2 separate regions of the Homo sapiens genome follow, and region 2 is reported to be linked to region 1. The links are microRNA targets in miRTarBase. Many come from high-throughput screens and were not tested one by one. Region 1 holds a microRNA gene; the other region holds the end of a gene's coding sequence.
The links. Region 1 holds the annotated microRNA hsa-miR-4450 (UGGGGAUUUGGAGAAGUGGUGA, at 1,168-1,189, opposite strand). A microRNA usually pairs through its seed, bases 2 to 8, with sites in the 3' UTR of a target mRNA and lowers its output. Matches are read on the target gene's strand: a 7mer-m8 pairs with bases 2 to 8, a 7mer-A1 pairs with bases 2 to 7 and ends in A, and an 8mer does both.

Region 2: miRTarBase lists THBS1 as a target of hsa-miR-4450. Seed matches in the 3' UTR shown: 7mer-A1 at 852-858.

The regions. Positions count from the first base shown.
Region 1 is chr4:76,571,761-76,574,760 of GRCh38, reverse strand. MIR4450 (microRNA 4450) reads right to left here and starts at 1,193; the gene lies at 1,129-1,193. All of the region lies in intron 2 of SHROOM3 (shroom family member 3), which reads right to left.
Region 2 is chr15:39,595,186-39,598,185 of GRCh38, forward strand. THBS1 (thrombospondin 1) reads left to right here. Exons shown (of 22, transcript NM_003246.4): 22 at 177-3,000. The coding sequence ends at 184. It also overlaps a transcript of FSIP1 not described here. Among named protein-coding and RNA genes, the nearest start is that of THBS1-IT1, 11 kb to the left of the region's middle.

The DNA.
Region 1 (3,000 bases):
CCTTATACAAGTGGAATCATTTACAGTATTTGTCTTTTTGTGACTGGCTTATTTCACTTAGCATAATGTCCTTAGGGTTCATCCATGTTGTAGCATATATCAGAATTTCCTTTGCTTTTAAGGCTATACATTTCTTTTTTTAATCACAAAATGATTTGAGTTTATGTAGCTAATCAATCAATTAGATTAAGAGGGAGTATCCGGTCTGTCTAATAAGAGTTTAGGCATGAAAAATGGTAAGAAAGGCGTTGGTAGAGAGGGAGAGAGAGAATTTGCTGAAATATTTAATGCCATGGTTCTTTAGGGTGCATCAGAATCATGGGGAAGACTTGGTAAATCAGATTGCTAGGCTCAAACTCCAGAGTTCCCAATTCATTAGGCTTAGAGCAGGGCCTGGGAATTTGTATTTTCCAGAAGTTCCTGGGCATGATCACACTTTTGACAACCATTGTAACCTATCCAGGGTGAGGCCTAGAGGATTCTAATTGCCAAAATTTTCCCATCGTGCAAAGAAGATACCCCTCCCAACTAAGACAAGAAGCTTGAAGTTATAGAAGTAGGGAAGCACAGAGAAGAGTGAGAAATAGTGAGAAAACCCAGCCCTCAAGATCCCAGCAACTTGTGGAAATGAGGGAAAAGATGGTGGCAAGTCAAGCTGTGAGGACCAAGTTCTGATTTCTCTTCTAGCCTCAGGGAGGAGAGGGAAAGTGTGTGAGCTAAGTGAGGAGAATGTCAAAGGGCTCAGGGAACCCTGGCTCCACTGCACCATTTGAGACCCTAGGAGAAGGTCACTGGAGTAGGTCTGGCCTGGCTCAATTTCGAGGTCTCTAGAGGTCCAGACAGAAGGAAGAATCTCAGACATCAGACGGCAACCAGCAGACTTGCAAGGAGGCAACTATGGTGGGGTGAGATGATCCTAGGATGGGCCCTGGGTCAGGAGTTGCTGGGATGAGAGTTTGGCAGATGCTAAGTTGTCTGAAGCTAAGGGGAGCTGAGCAGAGACTGAATCTGTAAGTGTGGGGTTGCCAGCAATCCCAGGGGCATTGCCCAGGCCATGGCTGACCATGGATTTACCAGCTGCAGGATTCAGCGTTGGAGGCCAGCAGTGGCTGGGAAGGCTATGGACAGAGCCAAGGGACCAGGGGAGATGGTGCCAAAGACCTGCGCTCACCACTTCTCCAAATCCCCAGACACTGTTTAGCAAGACAGCTGGGCAGTGGAGAAAAAAGATGACATCTGAGCAAGGGAGGATTTTATTTCAGACTGAGCCCCTTAAGGGACTATTCAAATTGATTGGACCAGGTGAGCTTTTAACTTGGCCAGGAATAAAAATTATTATTATTATTATTATTATTATTATTATTATTATTATTATTATTGCCAACCAGCAGAAGTGGGTTTGTAAGGAAGACAAGGAACCTACATTTTTTTCTATACATCTAAATTGTCATGTGACTAGGTTTGGTAGATAAAATTGGGTACCTACTTTGACTAAAATAAATTCAATGATTATCAGAAATTCAAATTTAATAGGACATCTGTATTTTTAATTGTTAAATCTGGCCACCTTACCTTGTTGTGCCTGTTGAGGGCAAGTGACAGATCTAAATCTCAATTTTATTGAGTTTCAAGCTTGTGTTCATATTTCTTTCTTTCTTTTTTCTTTTTTATTTTTTTTTTGAGACAGTGTCTAGCTCTGTCACCCAGGCTGGAGTGCAGTGGTGCAATCTCAGCTCACTGCAACCTCTCCTCTTGGGTTCAAGCAATTCTCCTGCCTCAGCCTCCCAAGCAGCTGGGACTACAGGCGTGTGCTACCACACCTGGCTAATCTTTTGTATTTTTAGTAGAGACAGGGTTTAACCGTGTTGACCAGGCTGGTCTCGAACTCCTGACCTCAAGTGATCCACCTGCTTTGGCCTCCCAAAGCGCTGGGATTACAGGCTTGAGCCACTGAACCCAGCCTGTGTTCATATTTCATAAGCAGTTGGGTAGCAGAGAAAACTAGTTCAGAATAAATCTCTTCCTACCCACAAACCATAAAGGGGCAAACCCGTACACTGTTATACTGCTAGAGCTGCCCCTAAAACATGCCAATCACTTTTTTCCAGTATATTCAAGATGCAGATATTTACATTTGAACGATCACAATATCCCTAGAAAACAACTCCCAAAATTATGAAATGAGTCTTTAAACTGTATATACTATTAGGATATCTGACACATCCTCTGTCCCTCACCTCCCTGGCCCACCATCATTGACCACTAAGGTTTCCTACTGACTGCACTGGGAATAGTCCTCAGGGGAAGTGTCAGTCACACAGGGAGACCTCAGGATGCCCCAGAACATGCAGGCTGCAGTGGCCAAGGTCAGCCTTTATTAAGATCACTTTCTGCCCATGACCTGAAGGTCCTGTCACCTATCACGGTATACAGTTTGTCACTGAGATTACACCATTGGGAACTCACTCCTTTAGGGTAAGATGTTGACAACCTGCAAAATTGCCCTTTAAAATATGAATAGTAACTTTATTATTCCCGTTGTATGTTAGTGCAAGATTGTATTGTTCTCAAAGGACATTTACTATTCTTAGCCATGTCAAAGATTAGCAAATCATCTCCTAGCAAGGCTCTGAGGGAGTAAGAAATGCAAAGGCAAGTTTGGATGAGGATCCAGGAAAGAGGCAGATATGGAGGAACAATTCTCAGGAAGGAAAGATTTTAGGGAGATTGGGCTGGGGGGCGCAGTATGGAGGAAGCAGAGAGAAGATGGGAGTAGCTTGAGTGCTTCATTAGGATGCTGTTAATAGCAGAGCACAAAGACAAATCTCAACTTCTTCAGAAGCTGTATTTGACCCACGTACAGCCCATCTCACAATGGACACAGAGACTTCTAGATCTATGAATAAGTACTAGTAAGACTAGTACAGAATCCTAACATCATTTATCAGGCTTCCACTATTTGGAAGAGAAATGATAAAATCTTATTGGAAGTCTCAACTA
Region 2 (3,000 bases), not on the chromosome of region 1:
GCATCAATGTCAGCTAATAAAATTAAATGCTAATGTGCTTGAACAACCTTAAAATTAGGCTTTTGTCATTAGAAAAGTAGAGCTATTCCTATGTGGTTAACTTATTAACTAAGATGTCTATGCTTTTATGAATTAGTTTTCATTTGTATATTTATTTATATTTGTTTATTTAACAGATCCCTAATCATCAAATTGTTGATTGAAAGACTGATCATAAACCAATGCTGGTATTGCACCTTCTGGAACTATGGGCTTGAGAAAACCCCCAGGATCACTTCTCCTTGGCTTCCTTCTTTTCTGTGCTTGCATCAGTGTGGACTCCTAGAACGTGCGACCTGCCTCAAGAAAATGCAGTTTTCAAAAACAGACTCAGCATTCAGCCTCCAATGAATAAGACATCTTCCAAGCATATAAACAATTGCTTTGGTTTCCTTTTGAAAAAGCATCTACTTGCTTCAGTTGGGAAGGTGCCCATTCCACTCTGCCTTTGTCACAGAGCAGGGTGCTATTGTGAGGCCATCTCTGAGCAGTGGACTCAAAAGCATTTTCAGGCATGTCAGAGAAGGGAGGACTCACTAGAATTAGCAAACAAAACCACCCTGACATCCTCCTTCAGGAACACGGGGAGCAGAGGCCAAAGCACTAAGGGGAGGGCGCATACCCGAGACGATTGTATGAAGAAAATATGGAGGAACTGTTACATGTTCGGTACTAAGTCATTTTCAGGGGATTGAAAGACTATTGCTGGATTTCATGATGCTGACTGGCGTTAGCTGATTAACCCATGTAAATAGGCACTTAAATAGAAGCAGGAAAGGGAGACAAAGACTGGCTTCTGGACTTCCTCCCTGATCCCCACCCTTACTCATCACCTGCAGTGGCCAGAATTAGGGAATCAGAATCAAACCAGTGTAAGGCAGTGCTGGCTGCCATTGCCTGGTCACATTGAAATTGGTGGCTTCATTCTAGATGTAGCTTGTGCAGATGTAGCAGGAAAATAGGAAAACCTACCATCTCAGTGAGCACCAGCTGCCTCCCAAAGGAGGGGCAGCCGTGCTTATATTTTTATGGTTACAATGGCACAAAATTATTATCAACCTAACTAAAACATTCCTTTTCTCTTTTTTCCTGAATTATCATGGAGTTTTCTAATTCTCTCTTTTGGAATGTAGATTTTTTTTAAATGCTTTACGATGTAAAATATTTATTTTTTACTTATTCTGGAAGATCTGGCTGAAGGATTATTCATGGAACAGGAAGAAGCGTAAAGACTATCCATGTCATCTTTGTTGAGAGTCTTCGTGACTGTAAGATTGTAAATACAGATTATTTATTAACTCTGTTCTGCCTGGAAATTTAGGCTTCATACGGAAAGTGTTTGAGAGCAAGTAGTTGACATTTATCAGCAAATCTCTTGCAAGAACAGCACAAGGAAAATCAGTCTAATAAGCTGCTCTGCCCCTTGTGCTCAGAGTGGATGTTATGGGATTCTTTTTTTCTCTGTTTTATCTTTTCAAGTGGAATTAGTTGGTTATCCATTTGCAAATGTTTTAAATTGCAAAGAAAGCCATGAGGTCTTCAATACTGTTTTACCCCATCCCTTGTGCATATTTCCAGGGAGAAGGAAAGCATATACACTTTTTTCTTTCATTTTTCCAAAAGAGAAAAAAATGACAAAAGGTGAAACTTACATACAAATATTACCTCATTTGTTGTGTGACTGAGTAAAGAATTTTTGGATCAAGCGGAAAGAGTTTAAGTGTCTAACAAACTTAAAGCTACTGTAGTACCTAAAAAGTCAGTGTTGTACATAGCATAAAAACTCTGCAGAGAAGTATTCCCAATAAGGAAATAGCATTGAAATGTTAAATACAATTTCTGAAAGTTATGTTTTTTTTCTATCATCTGGTATACCATTGCTTTATTTTTATAAATTATTTTCTCATTGCCATTGGAATAGATATCTCAGATTGTGTAGATATGCTATTTAAATAATTTATCAGGAAATACTGCCTGTAGAGTTAGTATTTCTATTTTTATATAATGTTTGCACACTGAATTGAAGAATTGTTGGTTTTTTCTTTTTTTTGTTTTGTTTTTTTTTTTTTTTTTTTTTGCTTTTGACCTCCCATTTTTACTATTTGCCAATACCTTTTTCTAGGAATGTGCTTTTTTTTGTACACATTTTTATCCATTTTACATTCTAAAGCAGTGTAAGTTGTATATTACTGTTTCTTATGTACAAGGAACAACAATAAATCATATGGAAATTTATATTTATACTTACTGTATCCATGCTTATTTGTTCTCTACTGGCTTTATGTCATGAAGTATATGCGTAAATACCATTCATAAATCAATATAGCATATACAAAAATAAATTACAGTAAGTCATAGCAACATTCACAGTTTGTATGTGATTGAGAAAGACTGAGTTGCTCAGGCCTAGGCTTAGAATTTGCTGCGTTTGTGGAATAAAAGAACAAAATGATACATTAGCCTGCCATATCAAAAACATATAAAAGAGAAATTATCCCTAAGTCAAGGGCCCCCATAAGAATAAAATTTCTTATTAAGGTCATTAGATGTCATTGAATCCTTTTCAAAGTGCAGTATGAAAACAAAGGGAAAAACACTGAAGCACACGCAACTCTCACAGCGACATTTTCTGACCCACGAATGATGCCTTGGGTGGGCAACACGATTGCATGTTGTGGAGACACTTCGGAAGTAAATGTGGATGAGGGAGGAGCTGTCCTTGCAATGTTGAGCCAAGCATTACAGATACCTCCTCTTGAAGAAGGAATAATAAGTTTAATCAAAAAAGAAGACTAAAAAATGTAAAATTTGGAAGGAATCCATAAATGCGTGTGTGTCTAAATACAAATTATCATGTGAAGAAAAGGCCCAAGTGTACCAATAAGCAGACCTTGATTTTTGGATGGGCTAATTATGAATGTGGAATACTGACCAGTTAATTTCCAGTTTTAATGAAAACAG